Regions from separate parts of the Homo sapiens genome. Here region 1 is linked to region 2. The links come from fine-mapping of genetic effects on gene expression. A gene starts in region 2. The other region holds a variant in brackets. All regions are shown on one strand. Distances are between the middles of the regions. Region 1 has its middle 19 kb from the start of RAF1. Region 2 holds the start of MKRN2 (makorin ring finger protein 2).

The links. PIP is the estimated chance that this variant, and not a neighbour inherited with it, causes the effect. A credible set is the group of variants that fine-mapping cannot tell apart.
Region 1: its variant is the best candidate, but not a certain one, in a credible set for the expression of MKRN2 in tibial artery (GTEx, PIP 0.56).

The regions. Positions count from the first base shown.
Region 1 is chr3:12,680,639-12,685,031 of GRCh38, reverse strand. No RefSeq gene overlaps it. Among named protein-coding and RNA genes, the nearest start is that of RAF1, 19 kb to the right of the region's middle. The variant G/A (reference allele first, on the strand shown) is at 1,758.
Region 2 is chr3:12,554,575-12,558,967 of GRCh38, reverse strand. MKRN2 (makorin ring finger protein 2) reads right to left here and starts at 1,881. Exons shown (of 8, transcript NM_014160.5): 1 at 1,792-1,881. The coding sequence starts at 1,817. It also overlaps a transcript of MKRN2OS not described here. RefSeq lists enhancers at 1,162-1,221, 1,131-1,654, 2,042-2,101, 2,152-2,261 and a silencer at 1,782-1,871.

The DNA of each region.
Region 1 (4,393 bases), 130 kb before region 2:
CAGGCTGGTGGGGCGCGCCTGTAATCCCAGCTACTGGGGAGGCTGAGGCACGAGAATCGCTTGACCCCAGGAGGCAGAGGTTGCAGTGAACCAAGACTGTGTCATTGCACTCCAGCCTGGGTGATAGAGCGAAACTCTGTCTCCAAAAAAATAAACTACCTGCCAGGTATGGTGGCTGACACCTGTAATCCCAGCACTTTGGGAGGTCGAGGCAGGCGGATCACGAGGTCAAGAGATCGAGACCATCCTGGCTAACATGGTGAAACCCTGTCTCTACTAAAAATACAAAAAATTAGCCAGGCGTGATGGCGGATGCCTGTAGTCCCAGCTACTTGGGAGGCTGGGGCAGGAGAATCACTTGAACTCGGGAGGCGGAGTTTGCGGTGAGCCAAGATCGCGCCACTGCACTCCAGCCTGGGTGACAGAGCGAGACTCCGTCTCAAACAAACAAACAAACAAACAAAAAACCAGCCGGGCGCGGTGGCTCACACCTGTAATCCTAACACTTTGGGAGGCCGAGGCGGGCAGATTACCTGAGCTCAGGAGTTCGAGACCAGCCTGGGCAACATGGTGAAACCCCATCTCTACTAAAACGCAAACAAACAAACGAACAAAAAATTATCCGGGCGTGGAAATGTGCGACTGTAGTCCCAGCTACTCGGGAGGCTGAGGCAGGAGAATTGCTTGAACCCAGGAGGTGGAGGTTGCAGTAAGCAGAGATCGTGCCACTGCACTCCTGCCTGGCGACAGAACAAGACTCTGTCTCAAAAAAAAAAAAAAAGAGCTGGATCTCCATCCAGGCCAGAGAAGCTTCTCACAGACGGTTTTCAACTCTAAGAAATAAATTGGTTTGGTAATAAATGGCTTCTAGTCAGATAAAATATAGTAATAATAAAATAAAAATAATAATTCCAGAGTTCTCACAATGTACTGAATCTGGTCTGATGAAGCCTCTCCAACGTGAACCCCTGTGAATCCACAACAGCCTCAGAGGCTGTGGGGCAAAGCAAGCCACCTGAGGAATGAATAGCGGAAGAAAGACTAAAGGCAGTGGGCAGCCTTTTACACCCATTGGTCTTTGGGGCTCGGAACACTCCTTCAGTTCATAGACTCCCTCCTCCTGAAAGCGTGTGCATAACTCCCAGTGATTTCCACATGTGGTCTGAAGGGAACGCTCTTCAGAAGGAGAAGACATGAGCTTCACTGAATGTCAATATTCAGTTTCCGGAGAGAAAATCAACAGCTAACGGCCGGGGCATCTATTAGGGCTCTGCTATCGGCGATAGAAAAACTAACTTAATTGTTTTAAGTACAAAAAGGGGGAATGTAATCTGCATGGAACTGAAAAGCCCAGGTCTGGCTGTTGGAGGTCTGGCTGGTTTCAGTGCTCAACAGAGGTTGAAGGACCCCGCGGAATCCATTCTCGGGCCCTGTGAACTCCAGGCTCTGTTGTTTTTTTTTTTTTTTTTGAGACACAGTCTCGCTCTGTCGCCCAGGCTGGAGTGCAGTCGTGCGATCTCGGCTCACTGCAAGCTCCGCCTCCCGGGTTCACGCCATTCTCCTGCCTCAGCCTCCCAAGTTGCTGGGACTGCAGGCGCCCGCCACCACGCCCGGCTTTTTTTTTTTTTTCCTCTTTTTTTTTTTGTATTTTTTTTTTTTAGTAGAGACGGGGTTTCACCGTGTTAGCCAGGATGGTCTGGATCTCCTGACCTCGTGATCCGCCCGCCTCGGCCTCCCAAAGTACTGGGATTACAGGC[G/A]TGGGCCACCGCTCCCGACCCAGGCTCTGCTCTCATTGTATAAAGGTGGCTGAGGGCCGGGCGCAGTGGCTCACGCCTGTAATTCTAGCACTTTGGGAGGCCGAGGTGGGTGGATTCTCTGAGCTCAGGAGTTGGAGACCAGCCTGGATAAAACGGTGAAACCCTGTCTCTACCAAAATACAAAAAATTAGCTGGGAATGGTGGCGTGCACCTGTAATCCCAGCTACTCGGGAGGCTGAGACAGGAGAATCACTTGTACCTGGGAGGGAGGTTGCAGTGAGCCGAAATGGCACCACTGCACTCCAGCCTGGGTGACAGAGCGAGACTCCATCTCAAAAAAAAAAAAAAAAAAAAAAAAAGTGGCAGACACAGCTCCAGCCTTTCCTCCCCTCCCAGTTCAAGTCCATGGGAAAGCCCAGAAGGCTTATTTGGAAGCTTCCTCTAAAACCTGAGACTCACTGTGATTGGATCCGTTGAGTCATGTCTCCATCCCTCAACCAATCACAGTGGCCTGTGCCTGAGTCACAGCTTTCATTCCTGGCACCAGGGGAGAGTCCCAGCCAAATAGCAGGGTCTGAGAGTAGGGGAGAAGTGGGTCCCCAAACGTTTCTTAGGATAAGAAGAAAAGGCAAACAATGAAGTCCTCTGTAACCGACTACTTCAATTGAGGCATGGGGCCTGAGATGGATAACCCAGGTGCTTCCCAGCCCCTTCCACTGGGCCTGTATTTCACCAAACTTAGGCACTCAACAAACCAAACTACTTACATTTTCTTGCACACACACACTGTATAAGTGATCTATTGCTGTGTAACAAATTATTCTAAAACTCAGCAGCTAAGACAAGCATTTACTATCTCATGCAGATTATGAGAGTTCAATTCAGCAGGGGCTTAGCTGGTGGCTCTGGCTCAAGGTCTCTCATGAGGTCATAGTCAAAAAATAAAAGCTGAGGTTGCAGTCAGTGGGGACCATGGTATCTGAAGGCTTGATGGGCTTGAAGAATCTGCTTGTGTGACTATTGGCAAGCGGACTCAGTTCCTCATCATGTGGGTCTCTCTGTAGGACTGCCTGTGACTTCCTTCAGCACAAATGATCCAAAAAAGAAAGAGATAGAAGATAGAAGAAACAGGAAAAAATCTTGGGTGAAGTTCCTTTTTTTTTTTTGGCAGCATTGCACACAGTCTTTTAGAACTAGCCTTGGAAGTGACACAACACCACTTCTGTGGTATTCTATTGGTCATGCAGACCAACCCTGACAAAATATGGCAGGGAATTTCACAAGCTGTGAATACAGGAAGTGGGGATCACAGGCAGTCATCTTGGCTACCATGAAGAGTGCCAACTCCTGCCTCTGTGTGTATCTTTACTTGCCCTGTTTCTTCTGCCTGTCTTTCCTCATCTCCTTCCCTTGGAGAATTTCACTTTTGATTTCATTCCTGAACACACTCCTCCTCCAGGAGGCCCTCCCTTCCCACTTATCCAGTCATTCCCTCTCCAAGGAACACTGACACGTAGATAGACTACTATGTTTCAAAGCCTTGCCTGGGCCTGTAATTCATTTGTTCTTCTCCACACTGCACAATGAGGCCCTCAAGGGCAGGGACTCTGCTGGGCATCTCTACATCACCAGTAGCTGGTGTGGCCTCCAGCATGAGGGTGAACTGTAGATAATGGAGAGTGAAAGGGAGAACTGACAGGATTGTCCATATCATTTCAGCAAAACAAAACAACACAAGCACATCTTTGGTCCTGATTATCTGGCTTTCATTCTCCCTTTGGAGCCAGCCAATGTGAGCCAATGAAGGAAACTGTATCAATTTTAGACTGGATGTGGTGACAATGAAATAACCAGAAATTAAAGTGTTAGTCATCCAATAAGCCTTGTTCCTTTAAGGTTCATCTTAAGGCTAAAGCCACAGTTTCTCTTCTGTCTTAGCTAACAGTGAAATAAGTATACATTAAGCACCAACTATATGCTCAGTACTACACGCTGCGGGATGGGGGCGGTAGAATATACCATAATAAGGCCCTTATCCCAGAGACTAAGAAAGACCTAAGCCATTACATTTTTTTGAAGCTCCTGAGATTTTTTTTTATTTTTTATTTTTTTTTTAGAGATGGAGTCTTGCCCTGTTGCCCAGACTGGAGTGCTGTGGTGCAATCTTGGCTCATTGCAAACTCTGCCTCCCAGGTTCAAGTGATTCTCCTGCCTCACCCTCCCAAGTAGCTGAGACTACAGGAGTACACCACCACGCCAGGCTAATTTTTTGTATTTTTAATAGAGATGAAGTTTCACCATGTTGGCCAAGCTGGTCTCGAACTCCTGACCTCAAGTGATCCACCCGCCTCGGCCTCCCAAAGTGCTGGGATTACAGGCGTGAGCCACCACCCCCGGAATTTCCTGGTATTTTTTTTAAATGTAGAAATTCCAAAATAGGTATTAAAAAATGGTGATGGGCCAGGTGCGGTGGCTCAAGCCTGTAATCACAGCACTTTGGGAGGCAAAAGAGGGCAGATCAGGAGGTCAGGAGTTCCAGACCAGCCTGACCAATATGGTGAAATCCCGTCTCTACTAAAAATACAAAAATTAGCCGGGCGTGGTGGCATGTGCCTGTAATCCCAGCTACGCGGGAG
Region 2 (4,393 bases):
TTGGAAGCTAAATGACCTTAGGCAAGTCGCTTCAATGCTGAGGCTCAGTTTTACGATCTGTGGAAGAGCGCTGGTTGCTGGATTATACACTACAGTACCTAAGAGCCGCAGCACATTGTAAGTCCCCAACAAACATGACTAAACACTTAAACAGAAGTGATCCCTTCTCAACATTCCAACCCAATCTTCATTTATATGGAGCAACATCCTACAGAACACCCCTGTTTGGGAAACAGAATTAAAGCTTTCAAGTCAAGCTATCTCCAGGTATACAAGGAAAAAACCAAGATGATCCTGATTTAGGTCCTTGTGCCTCTACTAAGGTGTAAAATTTTAGGCAAATTTCAAGTCTTTCTGAGCATAAGATTCCTTATTTGTAAAATAAGATACTACAGAGTTGAGATTCAATTATAAAGCATTATTACATAAATGTGTACTGTTTTGTGGACACTTCTTAGATGAGGTACGGGAATAAATGGTAGAATTAAACCATAGAGCGAGGGGAGGAATACAGAGGTTTTTCTAGGAGGCTACAAGCTGCTTTACAGTGCACAATGACCTAGGAATACTTCCTCCAGCAGGAGAAACTTTATACAAATAAAAATACGTAAACACACACAAACCCGTCTTCACAAAACACCTTCTAGTACAAATAACCTAGTAAAAGTCTTTTTATAGACACTAGGTGCAAATTTCTGACAACAGCTTAACATAAGCCACCTGGGCCTTGGATAAATTGAACAGTAAATGTACACTAATGCTAACAGAAAACTTACTACACAGTCACGTCTCAACTATTCATACCAATGAAGAGAAGTAACAACATAGAAAATAAACTGTTTATTACACAAACTCTATAACTGTTTTTAAGCAATGTTTCCCATAAAAATTATTAAATGAAATTTGCATTTTCCAAGCATACAATTCAATTTGCGTTTTCCAAACATACAATTCAATAGGACTAGACTCCATTACCAGTAAGCCACAAGCTGACCAAGCAATGAGGGTGTTACACAACCACACTATTCTATTTCATAGGAGCAGTCGTAGTGTAGCTATCTGGCTATTTTCTACAATAAACCATCCATTACCGTCGCATTTCTCCTCGTAAATGGCTCTCTCAGTAAGATAAATGAGTGTCAACGTCTTTCGGTCTCAGTTTCCTGCACTGTAAAATGGTAATAATAACTACTAAGTTGTCTTACTGTGAAGTCTGATGATAATGAATATAAAGGACTTGGAAATATGCAGGGCGCTTCGCCGATATTCACAATATGCTACCTGTCGTTATTTTCCACACAACAACTTTTACTTGTTAACTCTCTGCAAGTTTAGATTGCATCTGGATTCTCCAAACTTTGAGGCCCTCATAATCGATTAACAAATTACTCCTATGTGGTATCCCCATTTGTAACCGTCCTCTCGGCGTCCCTTTACTCAACTTCAAATCTTTTCCAGTTAAAGCGTAAGCCCCAGAGCCTTCCCGACAGCGCCCCGGCATCCTGCACGGCCCTGGCTAGGACGTCCTTCCTCCCAGCCCACAGGGGCCACGCTTCAAACTCGGGGCGTAGCCCCCCGCGCTGGCCTCGCCCAGCGTCTCGGCCACGCATCCCCCGGATCCCCGGCTGTGGCGGCAGCGCTCGCTCTGCCTCGCAAAGCCCCGCCGCGAACAGCCGAGTAACTTTCCGAGTCCCGCTCTAGCCTCAGGTTCCCGGACCACAGCACTGGCGCGCACCGGCCCCCCTGCGGCCTGGGGGAGCGGCCCGAAGCTCCTGGCTCCAGCGCACTGACCTGCAAGTGATCTGCTTGGTGCTCATGGTGGCTGGGCTGAGGGACCGTCGTCGTGCCGCCGCCTCTCGCAGCCGCTGCCGCCTCGGCCTTGGCCCTGGCCCGGCCCATCCCGCGTAGCCGCGTCACGCCGGCGCACGCCGGCGCACGCCGCCCCTCCGGTGTGGCACCTTTGTAGCGCCGGCGGGTAACCTAGCCGTCGTCACAATTGGTTCCGCACCGGGGATCGGGCCGGCTGTCCCGGCATCCCTGCTCTCGGTGTCCCGCACTTCCAAGCCTCCGGGGCGGAGCCTGGCTGGCATCTTAGTCCTGCCAGTCTTATCCCGATGCCTACTGTTAGTGCCTGCGATTCTGCCCCGATCGCCAAGAGTATTCCTTAGGGATCTCCCGCCTCCTTCGAGGCACTTCACCACTCCTGGGGAAACTCCAGCCTCTCCTCTTAATCCCGGATGCCCCTATCCATTCATACTCGCACTCACTGGGCACCCTTCTCAGGCCCTGCCTCAACTGTTCCCGCCGGACCTCGCCTCCCACTTAAGGAAATTCCTTAGCTCTCTCCCAACTGCTCTTTCCCCAAATCTCTACTTCCACAAGTTTTAGTCTTCATTTTCTTTCCTGCCAGTCTTGTGCTGCTCGTCTTCCATTTCCTATGGTGGAAACCCCAAAAGTTATTTTTGACACTTCCCTCTAGCTCTCTATACCCTGCAGATTCTGCTCCCACACCTCTGTCCAATGCGTCCTCTTCTGCCCCCTTTCCACCGTCCCTTCTACCTAGCACCATGCGATACCTTTTTTTTTAATTATTATTATTTTATTTTTTATTTTTTTGAGACGGAGTTTCTCTCTTGTTGCCCAGGCTGGAGTGCAGTGGGGCGATCTCGGCTCACTGCAACCTCCGCCTCCCGGGTTCAAGCGATTCTCCTGCCTCTCAGCCTTCCACGTAGCTGGAATTACAGGCGTGCACGCCTGGCCAGCCATGCGATAGCCTTTTAACTGGTCTTCTGGCTTCCGTTCCTGGTAAAAATCTATTTTTAAAACATAAATCGGATCATGTCATTCACCTTTTAATCTTACAATGGTTTCTCATTGCTTAAAAACTCGAGATACATAACATGCACAATATAAGTGCACCAAACACATTCTATGAATTTTTGCACATGCATACACTCATGAAACTACCACCCAGATCAAAATAAAGAATTTTTTGTTTTGTTTTGAGGCAGGGTCTTGCTCTGTCGCCCAGGCTGGAGTGCAGTGGCGCCATCATAGTTCAAGCAGTCCTCTGCCTTAACCTCCCCAGCAGCTGGGAATACAGGTGCGCGACACCATGCTCGACTAAACTTCAAAATGCTGGAGTAAGGAGAGGTTGAGCCGGAAGGATCCTTTGAGCATAGTTCACTGCAGTCGAGGCTGCAGGGGGTGGGTGGGGGCTGGATATTATCGACACCCCAGAAGGGCTTCCTTATGGTCCTTCCCAGGCAATACTTTACAAAGGTCATTGCTTGGGTTCATCTCTATCACTATAAATTAGTTTAACTGTTCTTGACTTTCATATAAATAATAATTCAGTACCTACGCTTTTGTCTGCCTTCTTTTGACCAACATTTTATCTGTGAGATCTTTCCATGTTATGTATGTATAGCTGTATGTTCTTTTTTTACTTTGCTATAAAAATATTGAGTCTTCCAATGAATGAGCATGGTATATACTTCCAATTATTTAGAACTTTTGAAATTTTTCTCAGGAATTTGGAAGTATACTGGAAATTTTGTTTTCAGTGTCTTGAATATTGCATTTTAACTCATAACACATTTGATCCATGCAATTCATGCTCATAAAAATTACACGTCTTTTTTTTTTTTTTTTTTGAGACGGAGTCTTGCTCTGTCACCCAGGCTGGAGTGCAGTGGCATGCTCTTGGCTCACTGCAACCTCCACCTCCCGTGTTCAAGCGATTCTCCTGTCTCAGCCTCCGGAGTAGCTGGGATTATACAGGCGCACGCTGCCACGCCCAGCTGATTTTTTGTGTTTTAGTAGCGACGGGGTTTCACCCTGTTGCCCAGGCTGGTCTCGAACTTCTGAGCTCAGGCAATCCACCCGCCTCGGCCTCCCAAAGTGCTGGGATTACGGGCGAGAGCCACCGCGCCCAGCCCATGCCACTTATTTTTAAAATTCAGCTTATCTCATTCTTTATGGAATACATTCACGATCTGAACGTTATTATGTTCAAATATTTTAAAAGCGTAAAGTGAAAAGTCTCAGTCTCCTGTCAATTTAGTTCCCGCCTCTTCAAAACAAAAAGCAGAAACATTTTTTAAAACCTCAAAACCTGGCCACTGTTATCAAATTTGTATACATCTTTCCAGAATTTCTTTAAATATACACAAGTAAATACATATATATTATTTTCTCCTTTTTGTAGAAAAGATAACATAACGTACTGTTCTGCACAGCGTACATAATCAGTGGAGATTTTTCCATATCAGTACATAGAGCCTCTTCCTCCTTTCGTAGAACTGTATAGTATTCCGTTGTACGACTATGCCATAAGTTATTTCATCAGCCTTGTACTGCTGGTGCCCTTTAGGGTGTCTGTGCAAATAAA